2 separate regions of the Homo sapiens genome follow, and region 2 is reported to be linked to region 1. Evidence: microRNA targets listed by miRTarBase, many of them from high-throughput screens and not tested one by one. Region 1 holds a microRNA gene; the other region holds the end of a gene's coding sequence.
Evidence for each region. Region 1 holds the annotated microRNA hsa-miR-3200-5p (AAUCUGAGAAGGCGCACAAGGU, at 2,498-2,519, shown strand). A microRNA usually pairs through its seed, bases 2 to 8, with sites in the 3' UTR of a target mRNA and lowers its output. Matches are read on the target gene's strand: a 7mer-m8 pairs with bases 2 to 8, a 7mer-A1 pairs with bases 2 to 7 and ends in A, and an 8mer does both.

Region 1 (4,000 bases):
TTGAGTGCTTTTTCATATGTTTATCAGCCATTTGGGTATCTTCCTTTGTGAAGTGCCTACTCAAGTTTTTTACCCATTTTAAATTGGTTCATTTCCTAGTATAAAGGTTCCCCAAAAAATTAAAAATAGAACTACCATATGATCCAGGAATCCTACTTTTGGACATTTATCCAAAAGAACTGAAATTAGGATCTCAAAGATACTAGCACTGCCATGTTCATTGCAGCATTATTCACAGTACCCACCTAAATGTCCATCGATGGATGGATGGATCTAAAATTATTGGCTGGGCACGGTGGCTCACGCCTGTAAACCCAGCACTTTGGGAGGCCAAGGTGGGAGGATCACCTGGGGTCAGGAGCTTCTGACCAGCCTGGCCATCGTAATGAAACCCCGTCTCTACTAAAAATACAAACATTAGCTGGGCATATTGGTGGGTGCCTATAATCCCAGTTACTTGGGAGGCTGAGGCAGGAGAATCGTTTGAACCCAGGAGGCAGAGATTGCTGTGAGCCAAGATTGTGCCATTGCACTCCAGCCTGGGTGACAGAGAGAGATTCTATCTCAAAATATATATATATATGTGTGTGTATATATGTGTGTGTATATATGTATACACAACAGGGAGATAGCCTTAAAAAGGTAGGAAATCAGCTGGTCATGGTGGCTAATGCCTGTAATCCCAGTACTTTGAGAGGCCGAGGCAGGTGGATCACAAGGTCAGGAGTTTGAGACCAGCCTGGCACACATAGTGAAACCCTGTCTCTACTAAAAATACAAAAATTAGCCAGGCTCTCGTGGACTTCAGCTCTTGTGGACTTCAACACGTTGATTATGGGTTTCTAGCCTCCAGAAGTGTGAGATAATAAATTTCTGGGTTTTTTTGTTTTTTGGGGTTTTTTTTTGAGATGGAGTCTCCCTCTGTCACCCAGGCTGGAGTGCAGTGGCACAATCTCGCTCGGCTCACTGCAACCTCTGCCTCCCAGGTTCAAGCGATTCTCGTGTCTCAGCCTTCCAAGTAGCTGGGACTACAGGCGCATGCCACCATGCCTGACTAATTTTTGTATTTTTAGTAGAGACGGGATTTCACCATGTTTCCCAGGCTAGTCTCAAACTCCTGACTTCAAGTGATTTGACGACCTCGGCCTCCCGAAGTCCTGGGATTACAGGCGCGAGCCACCGCACCCAGCCTGGAGTTTGCTTTTAAAGCCAATTTTTATAAAGTATAAAAGTATAACATACATGCAGAAAAACTGGTCAATTACGAGGATGTAGCTAGTGAATTTTCATGGAGTGAGCACCTCCCTTATTTTGAATTTATTTCCCCCCACTTATTGTTAACAAACAGTGGCTTGTCATTTACAGGCCTGTGTCCTTCCCAAGCTAGACCATTGAGGCCAGAAAGATGTGTCGTATTTATTTTTGTATCTACTCCCTCCCCAGTTTCTAGCACAGTTCCTTTATATAGTAGCCCACAGGAAGTGCTTGCTGAATTAGAATGCAGAAGGTTGGATGGGAATTTCACAGTGAATCAGGGTCACCTTGAGCTTGCATTGAATGGAAGTTCCATATAAGACTAAGTACTTTGCTCCAGAGTGGTAGCTTTTGGTCTTTCTGTGCATCTGGATTCAGATTCGCTGCCCTGTCTCTCTCTCTCTCTCTCTCTCTCTCTCTCTCTCTCTCTCTCTCTCTCTCTCTCTCTCTATATATATATATATATATATATATATATATATAATTTTTTTTTTTTTTCCCATGGACATTTTTGGGGAAGGGCTTCTGGAAAACATAGCCCAAGGCAGGGATTAAAGAGCTAATGCTGGCCGGGCGCGGTGCCTCACGCCTGTAATCCCAGCACTTTGGGTGGCCGAGGCAGGTGGATCACGAGGTCAGGAGATCGAGACCATCCTGACTAACACTGTGAAACCCTGTCTTTACTAAAGATGCAAAAAATTAGCCAGGCGTGGTGGCGGGCGCCTATAGTCCCAGCTACTCGGGAGGCTGAGGGAGGAGAATCGCTTGAACCCAGGAGGTGGAGGTTGCAGTGAGCCGAGATCGCGCCACTGCACTCCAGCCTGGGCGGCAGAGTGAGACTCCATCTCAAATAAATAAATAAATAAATGAAAAATAAAGAGCTGACACTTTGGGAGGTGCAATCCCAGGGCAGTGAAGGAGCAATGGCAAGTGGCAGAGGAGAGATCAAAGTGACCACCCAGCTCATTCCCTTGCTGGATGAGACTTCACAGCGAGCTACAGAGACACGGTGGGTCGCTCAGCAAGCATGCTTGCCTGGCACATGGACTTTTCCAGAACTTACACAAGAAGAAAATACACCTCAGAGCCATCCGTGGAGGGAAGAGTGGGGGGAGATTCATCTGACCTGTTCTTTTCATATCCTATTTTCCACGGTGGCATTTCATACAAGCCCAGAAGTGGAGGTACGGCGTGACCTGGATGAGGCATCATCGAGAGAGACAAAGAAGGAGGTGGTCGAGGGAATCTGAGAAGGCGCACAAGGTTTGTGTCCAATACAGTCCACACCTTGCGCTACTCAGGTCTGCTCGTGCCCTCCCATGATATCAGCTCTCCTACTTCAATGTGGGAATCTCCGTTTTCCTTGGAGAACAAAAACATCCTCATTCCTTCCCTGAGCAGGAAGGTACAAATCCCATCAGTGACAGAAGCCATTTCCTGGTGCTGGCCCACTGGGGTTACCAGGAAGAATAAAGCAAGAAGGTTGTGAAACAAGGTCATCTGCTGCTGCTGTGGCCGGTCCTGGTGTGCTCATTGTTACTCATCATTTCCCTCCTGCACTACCCACCCTAGACCCTCTCCACTCTCCGCCAGCACTCTGGCTGGTCTGTGATGTTTGCGCTGAGTGGTCTGCATGTGTTGTTGGCCTTGCTCATTATCAGCCGTTACCAATCATGGAAATGTTAAGAGATACCGGTGCTAGGCACAGTGGCTCATGCCTGTAATCCCAGCACTTTGGGAGGCCAAGGTGGAAAGATCACCTGAGGTCAGGGGTTCAAGACCAGCCTCACTAACATGGTGAAACCCCATCTCTACTAAAAATACAAAAATTAGCTGGGCGTGGTGACGGGTGCCTATAGTCCCAGCTACTCGGGAGGCTGAGACAGGAGAATCACTTGAACCTGGGAGGCGGAGGTTGCAGAAAGCCGAGATAGCGCCATTGCACTCCAGCCTGGGCAACAAGAGTGAAACTCTGTCTCAAAAAATAAATAAATAAATAAAAATAAGAGATATCCCAAGGAGTCCTCTGGGTTTTATTCCAGACATTCTCCTCCCATTTCCAAATGGGCCACTCACCTAATTCCTCATGGCAATTAGGATCAGTGACCCCTGGCGGTAGAGTCACTCCCCTGGCAGTAGAGTCACTCCCCTGGCAGTAGAGTCACTCCCCTCTTTGTTGGTCACTGGCATGAGGAGCCGTAGGTGGCCAAGTGGTTGTGGCAGTGTCCAGATCAGTGGAATCTTTGTTTCACATTCCTCCCTTACCCCAGGACTAGATCCTCTAACCCAGCTGATCCCAAGTGTGTGAGGATGGGAAGCACACACCTTGCAAAGGGCAACCATGCGTGATGGTGAGCAGGGCCACTCCTGGACCTGTCTGCTGTAGCTGTGGGGGACATGGCACCAGATATCAGTTGTCAGCTCAAGGCATCCTGGAGGACAGAGGCTCAAACCTGAGGGGTATTTCTCCCTCGGTGTCCCCGCTAAGCCAGTAGGCCATTCCATTGTTTTGTCAGGCTCGCTGCCCCCTAGTGCAGCTGGGTTCCTGTGATTCCAGTGAATTTATGGCCAGGAGTCACTGGCACAGCTGCTAGGCTGAAATGGGCCACTTTGTATAAGGCTGTATCGAATGGAAGTCCAGGCCAGCACACGAGGCATTCAGTAACTTTGGACCATGGTGCTGCTGGAGGCACTACAGGCAGGGAAGGCAACCTCATTACCAAAAAGCACTTCCGTTTCATGAAGG
Region 2 (4,536 bases), not on the chromosome of region 1:
AGATAGGCCAATGGAATAGAGTAGACAGCCTAGAAATAAATGCTCATATACAGGGTGAAATGATTTTTGACAACAGTGCCAAGACCGTTCTTTGGTAGAAGGACAATCTTTCAAAAAATGGTGTTGGGAAAACTGGATATCTACATGCAAATAATAAAAGTGAACCATCACATTACATCATGTATAAATAGTAACTTATATTTAATCAAAGACCTATACTTAAAAGCTAAAACTATAAAATACTTAGAAGAGCCTGGGTACAGTGGCTCATGGCTGTAATCCCAGCACTTTGGGAGGCCGAGCAGATCACTTGAGGTCAGGAATTGGAGACCAGCCTGGCCAACATGGTTAAACTCTGTCCCTACTAAAAATACAAAATTTAGACAGGCGTGGTGGTGGGTGCCTATAATCCCAGCTACTTGACTACTTGGGAGGCTGAGGCATGAGAATCACTTGAACCTGAGGTGGAGGTTGCAGTAAGTCAAGATCATGCCTCTGCACTCCAGCCTGGGTGACAGAGGGAGAAAAAAAAATTACTTAGCAGAAAACATAGGGGAAAATTTTGTTAAATTTGGCAGTGATTTATTGGATACGACATTTAAGGCACAGACAACCAATAAAAGATAAACTGGACTACATCGAAATTAAAAACTTTTGCGCACCAAAGGACAATCTCAAGATGAAAAGAAAACCTACAGAAAGGGAGAACACATCTGCATATCACATATCAAATAAGGGCTTAATACCCACAGTGTATAAAGAATTCCTACAACTCTCTTCCAAGCACTTGGGAGCTGAAAAAAGAAAGAAATTTTCTAAATATTAAAAACTAAAAATTTTAAATAAGAATTCCTATAACTCAACAACAAAACACAAATGACTCAATTTTAATGAGCAAAGGATTTTAAAACAAACTGGTTCAAAAAATATATAAACAACCAACAAAAACAAAAACCAATGTGCATTATTATTGGTCATTAGGGAAATGCAAATCAAAACCACAATGAAAAAGCAGTACAGAACCATTAATTGGCTATTATGAAAAAAATACGACAACCAGTATATGTGACAATGTGGAAAATAGAAACCCTTATGCATTGCTGGAGAGAATGTAAAACATTGTAGCCACTTTGTAAAGCAATATACCTGTTCCTGAAAAAGGTTTACACCAATTATTCTGTGAACCAGCAATTACACTCCTAGGGATACATATATCCAAAAGAATTGAAAGCAGGGACTCACACAGACATAGACATACCACATCCACAGCAGCCTTATTGATAGCAGTCAAATTATTACTGTGGAAACAACCCATGTTTATCAACATAAAAATGGATAAACAAAGTATGCTTTAACCATACAGTGGAAATTTATTCAGACACAAAAACAATGAGTTCCTGATACATGCTACCACATGGATAAACCTTGAAAACGTTCTAAGTGAAATAAGCCAGACATGGAAGGACACATGCATACTTCCACATATCTCTCTCTCTATGAATAGTCAAATTCACAGACAGAGAAAGTAGAATGGAGATTTTCAGTACTTTGGGATAGGATGGAATAGGTAATTACATGTATGGAACACTAAGTAGATAGAGCAAGTAGCACAGTAACACGTATAAAATGATCCCTTCCTTTGTGTATTCTAGTTTGTACCAGCACTGTAAGAGGCTTCCAGATGAGCAGTTCCAGTGGTTAATGTTGGTAGTTCAAAGGGTAACACTGCCCTCTAGGCAACATCGTGGAGGTCTATTTGAGATATATTTCACTACAAGTTATTCTCATGAATACTTCAATGAAACAGCTCTTATCAAGGCCCCCAGTGACCAAATACTTGCCAAAATCTACAGTCAACCCTTTTTCCTTGTCTTATTCAAATTCTCAGTGACCTGTGACACAGCTGACCACTCTCCCCATATTGAAATACCTTCTTCTGGAGGCTTCCAGGAGAAGAAACCCATGTTTTCCTCCTACTACTTCATTGGGTGTTGGAAACCATTATGGAGTGAGGAAGTCAATGATTTCAGGAGCTTCTCCACTATTGATGAAGTATCAGGAATATCTCAAATGCTGCAAGGGAGGTTGGTGGGGAAAACAATCTATGACATGCTTGAAGACTTTATTGAGGAACACATTGACAGGACAAGAGCACCGCCATCTTTATAACACTCCACCATCCTAAGCTTTAAGTTTCTATTTGGCCACCTGGCCAAAACTGAAAATGTCAGCCCCGCCCATAACTTCAACAGAGAATAACGGCCCTAACTGTAACAGAACAGCCAGGACTTCCCCAACCCCTCCCTAACAGAATTTTGTTTCAAAGCACACTTCTCCACTGGGCCCTTTAAAAAAGCCTCAGGCTGTAAGAGAAGTTTGCACCTGACCCTGCCGCTGGAAGCCCTTCTCAGGTTTACTCCCAATAAAACTGTCTCAACTGTTGAGCCACCTTCTCATCTCTCCTTTCCTTAATCTTTCTATCCCAACACAAATAAGAGAGCATAAATACTAACAAGGAACTCGAAGATATACTGAAATTCTCTGCAGATAATGATGATAATGATGATGCAGAAGACTTAGAAGAGGTAATATCAAAGATGTGACACTTGAAACATGTGCAGCAGTTTTTGGGGCATCTACAGCCTCTGCAAGGTGAAAAGTATTAAAGATTACAATCCTCGCAGGGCACGGTGGCTCATGCCTGTAATCTCAGCACTTTGGGAGGCCGAGGCAGGTGGATCACCTGAGGTCAGGAGTTCGAGACCAGCCTGACCAACATGGTGAAACCCCATCTCTACTAAAAATAAAAATTAGCCAGGCATGGTGGCGAGTGCCTGTAATCCCAGCTACTCTGGAGGCTGAGGCAGGAGAATCGCTTGAATCTGGGAGGTGGAGGTTGCAGTGAGTCGAGATCGCGCCACTGCACTCCAGACTGGGCAATAAGAACGAAACTCAGTCTCAAATGATAAATAAATAAATAAAAATAAAAATAAAATAAAGATTGCCATCCTCAAGTAAGATCCTTCAATGGAACAAAACCTCTGTGTCACCCAAGGGATAACATGCCAACAAACACTGCAAGGATATTTAAAGAAAAAGAACCAGCTTCCTACAACAATGTTTCTAACTAAATATCTGCAAATATGAAGACAGATCCTTCAGTGTGTACACATCTTCAGCCCTCATGCTGAACAGATTCTGACATTAGTATTATTTAGTCTCTTCCAAACTCAGCATCTGCAATCAGAACCTGGTTCATCCAACACAGATGATCATCCTGACATCCTGTCAAGATTCAAGTGAGCCTGATGTCTCACTGTTTATCTACAGTGCCACCCATCTAGTCACCTCAGTGAATCATATTAGGCACCATACTGTAATCAGCATCATCATGATCATGATCATCATCATCATCCTTGGGTTATCAAGCAAGAAGGATCAGGATTTTCATAAGTGTTAACACACGATTCCAGGTCATTAAATAAAAGCAATCTATGATTGTTGAAAAAAAAGAAACTGTAGATTACAGGCTCATGCCTGTAATCCCAGCACTTTGGGAGACCAAGGCAGGCAGATCATCTGAGGTCAGGAGTTCGAGACCAGCCTGACCAATATGATGAAACCCCGTCTCTACTAAAAATACAAAAAAAAAAAAAAAAAAAAAAAAATTAGCTGGGTGTGGTGGCATGCATCTGTAATCCCAGCTACTCAGGAGGCTAAGACAGGAGAATTGCTTGAACCCGGGAGGCAGAGGATGCAGTGAGCTGAGATTGTGCCATTGCCCTCCAGCCTGGGCAATAAGAGTGAAACTCTGTCTTAAAAAAAAAAAAAAGAAAAAAAGAAACTGTAACATTCTAGGTGACATGTACTATGTAGGCAGGCCTGTGATGGTTGGGTCTGTTCTCAACAGCACAGGATTATTTTCATATCACGATTCTCTAAAAAAAATACAATAAAATGACTGTTTACATAGCTTTTACAACACATGAGGTATTTTAGTAACCTACTTTTTATTTTTACTTTTACAAAAGCTTTGGGTTGGTGAAAAATTAAGTAATCTAGGCATGATTTATGGGATGCAGGAGGATGTGGATAGGTTACATGCAAATGTCCTTTTATAAAAGGAACACAGCATCTGTGGATTTAGGTATGCTTAGGGGGTCTGGAACCAATCCCCTGCATATGGTTAGGGGATAACCATATTCAAAAGAAACATCTTAAGGCTTTACCATGTGTTTGCATTCATGAGGCTTATCTCCTATGTGATTTCTTTCACGTTTCTGAAATGAAATAAAATTAATGAATGCTTTTCCACATTTATAGAGTATCTCTCCAGTGAGTCCTTTTATGTCTATGCAAGGAACTGAGAGAACTCAGTGCCTTCCCACATTCCTTACATTCATGCATCTTCTCTCCAGTGTGAGTTTTTTCATGTCCTCGAAGGAAACGAGAACGAGTGAAGGCTTTACCACATTGTTGACATTCATAAGATTTCTTTCCAGTGTGAATTCTTTCATGTCGCAGAAGGCAAGTGAG

Region 2: the mRNA of ZNF442 is a reported target of hsa-miR-3200-5p. Seed matches in the 3' UTR shown: 7mer-m8 at 3,578-3,584.

The regions. Positions count from the first base shown.
Region 1 is chr22:30,729,072-30,733,071 of GRCh38, forward strand. It overlaps MIR3200 (microRNA 3200), which reads left to right and starts at 2,486; the gene lies at 2,486-2,570. The region is part of intron 1 of OSBP2 (oxysterol binding protein 2); the gene reads left to right.
Region 2 is chr19:12,345,384-12,349,919 of GRCh38, forward strand. It overlaps ZNF442 (zinc finger protein 442), which reads right to left. Exons shown (of 6, transcript NM_030824.3): 6 at 561-4,536. The coding sequence ends at 4,318. It also overlaps a transcript of ZNF563 not described here. Among named protein-coding and RNA genes, the nearest start is that of ZNF563, 14 kb to the left of the region's middle.